Linked DNA regions of Homo sapiens: region 2 is linked to region 1. Evidence: fine-mapped expression QTL. Tissue or cell type: whole blood. Region 1 holds a variant in brackets; the other region holds the start of a gene. All regions are shown on one strand. Distances are between the middles of the regions.

Region 1 (5,324 bases):
TTTACACTATTTCTCTCCCGTTTTACCTTCTGTGACTTTCTTTGATCTCTGTCTCTTTCAGTCTTTCACTTATTCTCTCCCTCTCATTTGGGCTCTTTTTCTGTCATCCCGTTTCCTCTTTCTCTTACACTTAGTCTTCTGGGCTGGGTGGGATCTGCATGGCCACAGTCCGGGCCACCGCCGCCGGCCTAGCGGCTAGGCAGATAGACGCCTGCCCCAAGTTGCATGAGTCATGCCCCTTCGCCTCCTTTGCTCTCCTCCCGGCACCGGTCCCTGCCCTCTTCCACACAGAGCCAGGCTGGGGAGAGGGACCCACCCTCTGGCGCGCCTGGCTGCCTGGCTGCGTGGCACAGGCTCCTGGCTCCGGTGCGCTCATTGTCTCCCACTCGGCTCCAACTTGCAGGTGTCCGTGGCCAGCTAGCCTCTGAGGGTGGCAGGATGCACCCGAGCAGCACGGAAGGTGCGGGGCTCGGGGGCCAGCAGCCTGGGTGGCTCTGGCTGGCTCTGGCTGGCTCGGCCGGGAGTGAGGAGAGTGTCTCAGCCACTGCCGCTCTGCCAGGTGCCAGCAATCCACAACAATGTGGAGCCACGTTCGCTGCTCTTGCTTTCTCTGACTTCCTTTCCTAGTTTCTCTTTCTTCTCTGCTGCTCTTTCCCTTGCCTCTTTCTTCCCCCAAGAATAGGGGAAAGGGAAGTTTTGAACATTTTTCCTATGACCGGAAGTTTCTGTGAGGTTCAATCTCCCCCTAATGGGGATTTTTCACCTCTTTTTAACCTCCAAGACACCTCGACTAAGGAATACTTCACCACCCCCGCCCCCCCTCCCCGCGGCTTTTCTTTCCTTAGTCCTAAGGAATGCTTTACCTTGGTATGTCCCAACCAAAGAATGCTTCACTGCCCTGTGGCTTCTTTTTCCTTAGTCCTGACCACCAAGGAAGTATTTTACTGTCTCCCCTGGCATTTCCTTTCTTGGTCTGTGCAGAGTTGCCTGGTCCAGGTGGTATGTGAGGATCTTTTACTCCAGGTCACCAGCCGGTTTCTTTCCACATTGCTGAGAGTCCAGTTTATTTGTCATAACTGGTGGGTCTCGATTCCTTACCCTGAGGCCGCTACAACAAGGCAGTGGGGCGCCTTCCTCATGAGAGAGGACCAGAGACCCACCCCCCCACCCCCGGAGGAGAATGGCTCCCTGTACAGGCCACCGCCATTGTTACAAGTAAAATGTTTATTTAGAAACAGAATGCTTGCTCCTAGGTACTGCAAGGAAAAACCAGCATTTAGACAAAAAGTTTTTTCAGCAAGGCAATTTTACTTTCTGCAGAAAGGGTGCTCCTCACAGATGAAACAATGGTGACAGCACACCCGAACAAAGGAGGGAAGCAGTTTTTATCCCTTATGCAGCTTGTGTCCTGTCTCCATTGGCTGGAGCTGGACCTCACAATTTAAATTAAACCCGACTGGCTAATAACTTAAAACTTTCCTATATAGGGAAAGGCAATAGAGAACAAAGGAAAAGAAGAAGTTGCTTGCAAAAAGACTTAGAAAAGTAATAATATTTCCAAATAAGGAAGGGGCATAGGCTGCAAGCTGGAACGTGCCTGTGAGCATGTCCAGCACAAATATCTTGGTTAAAGTACAAGGACATAGAATATACTTATTCCCTTATATCTAACAGCTACATAGGATAGGGCTTAATGAAGAGTCATTAGCACAGAGCAGAGGAGGCTTGAAGGAAGTTAGTCTTTAAAAGAAACTATTATTTCTAACACTTATGATTTATTCTTTAACAAGAAAGGAAATTTCGAAAAGGAAACTTTTTACTTTCTACAGGCTGATGAGTGCAGCTAATCCTCATTATTATAAGCATCACTATTATCATCACTTGCAAGAGCCATGTGACAATATTTAGATGATTCTGGGTTCTTTTAAAGTGCATACATACTCAGGATTCCTTTGGGAGGATGCAATTTCATTTATATGAAAAACTGTCACTACCACAGTCAGCTCTAATAATATTTGATATCACCTGGTAATAAAGGTTTGTCGGCTGGGTGCGGTGGCTCACGCAGCACTTTGGGAGGCCAAGGCGGGCAGATCACGAGGTCTGGAGTTCGAGACCAGCCTGGCCAGTATGGTGAAACTCCATCTCTACTAAAAACACAAAAATTAGCTGGGCATGGGGGTGGGCACCTGCAGTCCCAGCTACTTGGGAGGCTGGGGCAGAAGAATTGCTTGAACCTGGGAGGCGGAGGTTGCAGTGAGCTGAGATCATGCCACTGCACTCCAGCCAGGGCAACAGAGCGAGACTCCGTCTCAAAAAAAAAAAAAAATAGTAAATAAAAAATAAAGGTTTGTCACCATATACTCAAGAGTACTTCTGTTATTCAAATCTCCTAACTGGGAGTTACAAATATCTCTGACTCTGCTCTTGTAGCTGTCAGAGCATAAAATGCCCTTCCCACTCTTTCCTCACTTCCAGACTCCAAAGCCTCCTCCTCAAAGTTTGGCCCCTCTACTTTGGACTACTGTTTTCTTCCCAGTTACTGCGCACTGACAGTACTTTTGTTCTCTCTTTCGGCAATTCACCATACACTTTCTAGTTTATTTATCTGCATAAAACTTAGTTCTCAACAAGACTATAACTGCCTTATGAACAGGAATCAACAGTTGAGAATCTTCAGAGTCTCCTATAACATCATGTAAGAGCTCACTAAATGTTTGATTTAAATAACTAGGCTTAAGAGTAATAGGCTGGGCATGGTGGCTCATGCCTGTAATCCCAGCTCTTTGGAAGGCCGAGGCGGGAGGATCACGAGGTCAGATCGAGGCCATCCTGGCTAACACGGTGAAACCCGTCTCTTCTAAAAATACGAAAACAAAAAATTAGCAGGGAGTGGTGGCCAGTGCCTGTAGTCCCAACTACTCGGGAGGCTGAGGCAGGAGAACGGTGTGAACCCAGGAGGCGGAGCTTGCAGTAAGCCAAGATCTCAACAGTGCTAAATGCATACATGGATTATCTTACTAAATTTTCATAACTCTATAGAGGTAAGTGCTATCATTATTTTCTCCATCATAGAGGAAGAAAGTGAAGCTCAGAATAACTTGCTCAAGGTCATACAGGCCTGGGCAAACCCAGGGCCTGAATCCAGCAAAGCTCTTAACTACCTCAGAACACTGCACAGTTCGAGCCCTGCAATACTACAGTCTATGAATGATTTCGATTTCACTAAGTTAGAAA[T/C]TTGAATTTCAACAGAGACATTTTAGCTAAAAGGTAAAATTTTAAAGAGGATGAATTAAGAGAATTTCCCACAGACATCTTTATAATAAAATGAGGAGAAAAGCCTCCCATTTCCTATTTATGAAAGTGATATTAAGGTGTGTGTCACAATTTCATCAAGAAGTGGCTTATGACAATACAGCTTTGGTTTAGGTATTAAAATAGGACTCTTTTCTGCCCATAGGAGGACATGGAAATGAAGGATAGATGTGATAAATGTCAATTCAGAGCTCTGCAAAATGCCAGACTCAATTCTTGTTTTAAAATATCAGAGCCAGGGCTCTTGTTTCACCCTTGATTCTTCACACAAAACACCACCATCCTCTGACCTCTTCACACAGAGCAAGCTTTACCCCACTACCTAAAGGGGAGTGCTGATCCACATGGTCTCCCCATCCACGCTAGAAATTGATCCCAAACACCAACCGCTGCATAGACGTCGGCGACTTTGGTCTGCACCCCCCGAACTTGGTGATACCTCATCAAGCCAAACCCCTCCCCAACATCCAAAATGCCCAGACCAGCATCCGAAAGCTGGTCTCCTATACAAAGCAGAATCCCTGCCTACAAAGCAGTTTCCCACCTCCGACTCCTCCCCACGGCGAACAGCCCTTCTGGATCCAACCAACCCACCAACCCCAATAGGGCCCAGCACCCAGAGGGTCCACAATCCAGAGAAGGAGCTACAAGCCCTGTACTTGCAAGCCTCGAACCCCCAACTCCAACTGACCTCCCCTCTGCCAGAGCAAGACCACGAGTACCCGCCGAGAGCGGACCTGGCTGGCTACACAAAGCCAGGCGCCCGACCAGAGGGATCCTCCGGGACGTCCTCCGCCACCGGGGCGTCCCCGCCCAGCCCCGCCCGGCGCCCGGCGCTCACCAGCTCTCCTCCCCCTCCTCCTAGCCTGACAGACGCTCCAGGTCGTCTAGCAAGCCGCCCTCCCCCGCCGCCAGCAAGAAGGTGGCGTCTCGCAGCTCCTCGTTATTCGTCCGCCTCGGGTCCATCCGGCCCCGCCGCCCGACTTTGCGCTGAGACCCAAGGGGAAGCCCCGAGGGGACCCCGCGCCGTAGGAGGGAGTGGAGGAGCCGGCGAACCGCGATGGAGCCGGGGCCCAGCACAGCGCGAGCGGCTCCTCGGCTGTTCGTGCTGCTTCCCCAGCTTCTTCACCGGCACCTGCAGCTTCCGCACCTCCTGGTCCGCGTTCACGTTAGAGTTAACGTCCTCCATCCCGGCCCCGCTGCCTCCGCCGCCCGCGGCCCTCTCGCTCTCGCAGCAACAAGGGAAGAGCCGGAGGAAAGAGGCGTCCACGCCGCTCACTCCAGCCGAGGCCCCCGCATATAGCAGGGCCAGGCCCCGTCGCCAGGGTTCCCCCAGCGCGGGTCCCGAAGCACCGCTGGCCACAGATGAACCGCCTCCTCAGCGCAGGTCCGGGATTCGGGGAGGCAGCGCCAATATCCGGTCTCTGCAGCCATCTTCCCTCCGTCCCTCCGCCCACCGAGGGTCGGCCCTGTAGGTGACCTCAGAGCGTCGGGGATGGGCGTGGCCCCGTCGGGCGCTAAGAAGACCTAGCGCAGAGAGGACCGCCGAGCTCCCGACGGGGCGGGGCCAGGTGTGTGAGGGGCGGGGATTGGACCCGGAGGGGCGTGTCTGGACTGCCGGCGGAAGTGGAACGCGGCCTGACCTGCGACGGAAAGCCACTGCAAGCCCGGAGGCGAACAGAAGGCATTCCGCGAGCCGGGCTGAGTTGGTGAACACGGTCCTCGTTCACCCCGCCTATTGGTCTGGGCGTGTGGGGTATTCTCCACCCACTTATACGGCGTGTGGGACCGACGGGCCCGTCCTGCCCGGCTCCGGTCCGGATCTCGAGTAGGCGCTCAATGGGATTCGGGGAGACGTAGTTTACTTTGTTCAGCAAATATTTAACCGATGCCTATTTTAATGGGAGATTGTTTCCGCTGGCGGGAGCCTCAGAGACCGCCTGTGTCCTTTAAGAAACCCGAATTTCAGACAGTTAAGAGAGGTCTAAGGTCAAAATAATAATCATAAT
Region 2 (5,145 bases), 25 kb before region 1:
ATTAGCTGAGCATGGCGGCACGTGCCTGTAATCCCAGCTACTTGGGAGGCTGAGGCAGGAGAATCGCTTGAACGTGGGAGGCAGAGGTTGCAGTGAGCCGAGATCATGCCACCGCACTCCAGCCTGGGCGACAGAGCAAGACTCTGTCTTGAAAAAAAAAGAAAATATTAAATTTCATTGTATGTGCTTAAGAGCTGTAAAATGTTCCTTGTATGTGTATATTTGTTTGTACAGAGTAAAATGTATTTATTACTGAGGGTCATGGGTCTGCTTTTTAATTTTTCTCTCTCCTCCTTTAATGCCAGCTCTCAGTCGTCATTCTATTGCTGTCAGTGACTCTGTATCTATGTAAACTATTTCCATCTATAGTTTATGAATTCTAATCTTCTACGGAGAAAGACAACGTAGAAGATTAGAAACTGAATTCATCTTTATTTTCCCCATGCCCCTCCAAAATTTGTTCCAATTCCTACCTTCTTTATGCCTAAGGCTAAACACCATTATACCAAGCTCTAAATTTTGGAATCACTGGTGACTCTCCTCCCCTTCCAGTATTCTCTAACCTCTTCCAATCAGTTGCCAAGTCCTGCTGTTTCTCACTTAACAGTCTCCCATTTGCCTCCTTTCCCCTCATCTTCACTGCCCATGCTCTGGTTTGCATATTTTTCATCTTTCACTTGAATTGGCACAACAGCCCCTTACTGGTCTCCATATTTTTTTTCTTTCTTCCTTCCTCAACCCATTATCCAAATGCTGCCATTATACTCTTCCTAAAGGACATAACAAACAATAGGTAAAGCTCTGAATACATCCCTTTACACACTTCTTTAACTCTCACAATCGACCTACAAGAGTGATATTATCCATTTTATAGACAAGGAACCAAAGGTTCTGAGAGATTATGAGACCTGTCCAAGGATATACAGTTAAAAAACAATGGCGCCAGATTCAGCCCAGATCTGTGCAGTTCCAAAGCCCATGCTAAACTGTATCCTGTCATCTCTTGCCTAAATATCCCTACTCACACTCCCCTATCCCATCTTTCCCTTCACCTGAAAGAATTCATCTTGTTCTCCGAAATTCATCTCAAACATTTTCCAATAGAAAGCTTTCCAATTTCCCCTCCCCAAGGCTATGTTTCCACAACATTGGTGTTTACCTTTATCATATATCTGGCTTCAATGCAATTCTTTATTCATGTCTGTTTCCTCTTCTAGGCTCTCTGCTCCTTTAGAGCAACAATCATATCTTTTTCATCTCCACAACCCAGTATATAGCCAAGTGTGCACTACATAGGTGTTCAACATATGTGAATGAATTAGCTAAATTTTAAACAACTAGATAGTAAGGACAAGAGTCTATATCCTTTACATCTACTAAAACACCCAGCAATGCTTCCTCATAATAGCTAAAATAATTCTGTTTGAACGAACGAATTAACATCTGTATAGATTCCCTCATACACACCTACATAGATGAAGAGAGGGGTGAAATGAGCATATATGCTTTACTGCTTTAACCCATAGGCACCTTGAATTTGAGTAAATAACGGATAATAGAATAGTGAAGGGTAATTAAGAAAGCCTGATGGTATAACTAATTCCAAGGAACATCAAGTTTCCAAATATCTGGTGTCTCTGAAGCATGATGCTGGGAAGACAGATCATCAGTTTGACTTACAACAGAATTACAAATACGTACTTATTCAGGGGACATTAAATTTTTCTTCCTCTGGTGTCTAACAAAAATGAGTCCCCAAAAACTCTTTAGAACATGCCTTCACAACAGGATATGACTGCCATTTTATTGATAAGAAAACTGACATTACATAGACTAAAAATACATAGCAGTGCAGTTGGTGAAAGTAATGAAACAGAGGTCTGCTAACCAACAAACACGGACCCTCACTTATTCCTCTCATTTCTCTCTTCTGTTTCCTACGTTCTTGGGAAGCCTGGATATGATAGCCAAGTCTTCCTTTCGTTCACTCAAGAAAAAGCATTTAATGTTGACCAACTCTGAGACAGGAAAAGCCTAGGCCCTGGAGCTACTGAGACACAGCCTTAGCCCTCCATATGCTTAGTGAAGTCCAGTCAACCTCTGAGTTCTGCCCTTTGGCATCTCCACACCTTTTTTGGTGTTCCCTCGTCTAAAGCACCTGCATCTTTCTCTGGCCATTTTACTAATATAACCGGAGTCTTACTCGTAGCTCATTAACTTTAGGCCTCACTGAGGGAACCTGGGCACTCAGGTGTTCACCCATCTCCTCTACCACAACTTTCTGTTCTCACCGTGCTCTCACCACAGCACCGTCATCCCCACGGAGGGTTTTCGAGCACCAAAAGAGCCACCCATGCAAACAAACTCCCCTCCCAGAGATAAATCTGTCAACCCCTGCCGTCCTCTCGCTCTTTAGCCCCACAACTTTCACTACCGGGCCCTCTCCCCGCCATAGTGCCAAGAGCGTCCAGACCACGACTAGGGGGCGTGCGCGCGCCGGGAGGGGAAACGTGCGCGCGCCGGGGGGTGGGGGGGCGCCTAGCCCAGCGCCAGCACGGACCATGCACAGATCAGCAATCGCTGGCCGCCAGGCCTTCGGAGGGTCTGTCCGCCGCGGCTTCCGCTACGGGCGGCCTCGCACCTTCTGGCTCAGTACGCGGGACTGGCGTAGCCGCTCCTCGGCACTCATCGCCCGCAGACGCTGCTTCAGCTCTCCCCGCAGGCTCCGCTTGGCGCTGCTCACCGCTGCCGCCGCCATCTCACGCCCAAGCCGAGTCCAGTCCCGCCCTCGGCGCCCTGGGCGCCCTCGGGTTCGGTCTCCGCCCCTGGCCGCTCCCAGGTGGATCCGCGGCCTAGGGGCGGGTCGGGGCTCGGGGAAGCGCCCCCACCCCGCTTCCGGGACGCGGGCCCGCGGCGCGCCGCGCGCTTACCTCGCCTCTGGCCCTTGGGACCCAGCCCTCGTGCGGTCCCCGTGGTCCGGCTCGCCCTCCCCGGTTAGGGGAGCGGTGGCGAGGCGCCGTCGCTGCCCTGCCGCCTGACCTCCCTGAGCCTGGGCCCTCACCGGGACCGCGGAGGCGGCAGCGCCACTGGCGGGGATGGTAAAGATGGCCGGCAGTACCCACGGTGCCTGGCATCTCTTGTACTGTTCAGTAGTGGGACTTCAGGGGCCAGAAAAGAAGGGCAAGGCAGGACATGTAGCGAAATCGTCACGAGTCGCTTAACTACAGGGATAGGTCTGACAGATGCCCCGATTTCCTTCTTGTGCAAACATCAGAGTGTAGTTACACAAAGTTACTACACACCTATGCTACACACCTGTACAGCGTATTTTGTACCGAATACTGTAGGCAATTGTAAGCACCGTGATACTTGTGTATCTAAACACAGAAAAGGTAATGTGTTGGTTGGCTACCACATCAGTAGGTATTAGGAATTTTTCAGCTCCATTATAATCTTAAGGGACCACAGTGGTTGATGGAAATGTCCTTATGTGATGAATGTATAGATGATACATAATCGGGAACACTGCTAAAGCAATAACTGTAGTGTAAAAGCCAAATTTTGCGGGTTTCTAGTGTGAATGTATTCCAGGTAATAGTGCCCACATAGGTACTTCCTGTTATAACCATCAGTGACTGTTCATTCCCACCACTCAGCTCTGATTAAAACACAAAAATGAATTAAAACTAAAAGCAGTTGGGGGGTGGGTGAGGCACTTGCAGGAAGAGGTAAAAGAAACTGTTAAGTCTTAAACTGCTCCCAGTAGACAGGCGCCTCAGATGGCATAGACGGTTGCCTCTCAGATGTGACTTCCTAAGAAAACCAGAGCTGTCTCTGCCAAAAATACGTCCCTACTGACCGCCCCAGTGTCTTAATCCCCACCGTTAAGAATCACACCTCCTAGGTAAAGCATTAATTAAGTGCCCGGTGAGAATGCACATGGCTTGAGAGGGGAGTTCTGGCTTCTTTATGGAATCTATCAACAGCTTCCAGGGAAAGCTAATGCAAGTCCCAGGGGGACTGTGTTGTAAGAAAAAGGGAAGGCCAGGCAGGTACAGCGTATACATAGTGCAATTAGATTTGCTGACCTAAAAGTTAGAACACGAGGTCTAACAAACTACGTACTTTTCTAATCTGTTCATTTTTACCAAAAAATAAAAATTAAAATTAACACTAGCTCCACGTTGAATCATTTACCAATTTTCTTTGTTCAGAATATCCCAGAGTATCCTGCATATCAGGTTGCCATATCCATCAACCCCAAATGGCAAGCCAGAGAGAGAAGGCTGGGGAGGAGGCATCAATGGAAACTCTTAAGCAGCCAGGGGCACTGGAAACTGCAGAAAGCATGGGAAGGAAGGAGGGAAGAGGGAAGCCGACCTGAGTCTGCTTCTAGCCTGAGTCCGCTTCTCAGTCTAGTCTGCAGTCTAGCCTAGTGACACAGAAAAGGACTTTTGGGGTAATGGCACACCTTAAAAGTCTGCCTGGGGCAGAAAAGACACCGCCTTCCTGGTCATCATCCCATAATTAATTGCCTGGATCCTGTGTTGAGCTTTTACCCTTTGGCTGAATTTCCAGCCAGACTCCAAAACTGAAGACAAAAATGGCATATAGAGAAAAATACATACAATTTATTCATTAAATAGGGACAAAATTTCTGTAACTCTGGAAGGTCAAGTTACATCATCAAAGTTGTTTATTTAAAAGTAGAAGTATGTGTTGGCAATCGTTTTCGTAAGAGTCAGAAAAATTAGGCCGGTTTCACAATATGGAGTGTCCTTTCTGGTCAACAGTATTGCTTCAGGACAGAAGAGCATTTCACAGATCTTTCCTGTAACTTCTAGAAAAGTCATCCAGCCAGATTTAGGCTCAAGCTTCTTTACAAAGCCATTTTCCTATGAGAGAATAAATTTAACATTTTAAAAATCATTGGAGATTAAGTATGCTGGAATAAAAAGCAAAAATATTTTCATTTAAATAATGCAAATAATCTTCTATCCCTCTAAAGGAGCATTGTGTAACAGAAACACAGTGTGGCCTACATCTGTAATTTTAATTTTTGGTAGCCACATTTTAAAAAGTACAAAAATAGGAAAAATTAATTTTTAAGATATATTTAGTGATAATGATTTCTGTATGTAATCA

Evidence for each region. PIP is the estimated chance that this variant, and not a neighbour inherited with it, causes the effect.
Region 2: MTHFS starts here. The variant in region 1 is fine-mapped to the expression of MTHFS in whole blood (TOPMed, PIP above 0.99).

Annotation. Positions count from the first base shown.
Region 1 is chr15:79,918,987-79,924,310 of GRCh38, forward strand. It overlaps ST20-MTHFS (ST20-MTHFS readthrough), which reads right to left and starts at 4,106. Exons shown (of 4, transcript NM_001199760.2): 1 at 4,053-4,106. It overlaps ST20 (suppressor of tumorigenicity 20), which reads right to left and starts at 4,766. Exons shown (of 3, transcript NR_037653.2): 1 at 4,466-4,766. ST20-AS1 (ST20 antisense RNA 1) reads left to right here and starts at 3,785. Exons shown (of 1, transcript NR_028330.1): 1 at 3,785-5,324. RefSeq lists silencers at 3,924-4,033, 4,054-4,123, 4,134-4,183, 4,804-4,953 and enhancers at 4,484-4,663, 5,094-5,143. The variant T/C (reference allele first, on the strand shown) is at 3,238.
Region 2 is chr15:79,894,231-79,899,375 of GRCh38, forward strand. It overlaps MTHFS (methenyltetrahydrofolate synthetase), which reads right to left and starts at 2,784. Exons shown (of 3, transcript NM_006441.4): 1 at 2,642-2,784. The coding sequence starts at 2,758. All of the region lies in intron 2 of ST20-MTHFS (ST20-MTHFS readthrough), which reads right to left. It overlaps ST20 (suppressor of tumorigenicity 20), which reads right to left. Exons shown (of 3, transcript NR_037653.2): 3 at 4,612-4,895. RefSeq lists a silencer at 2,793-3,092 and an enhancer at 3,233-3,282.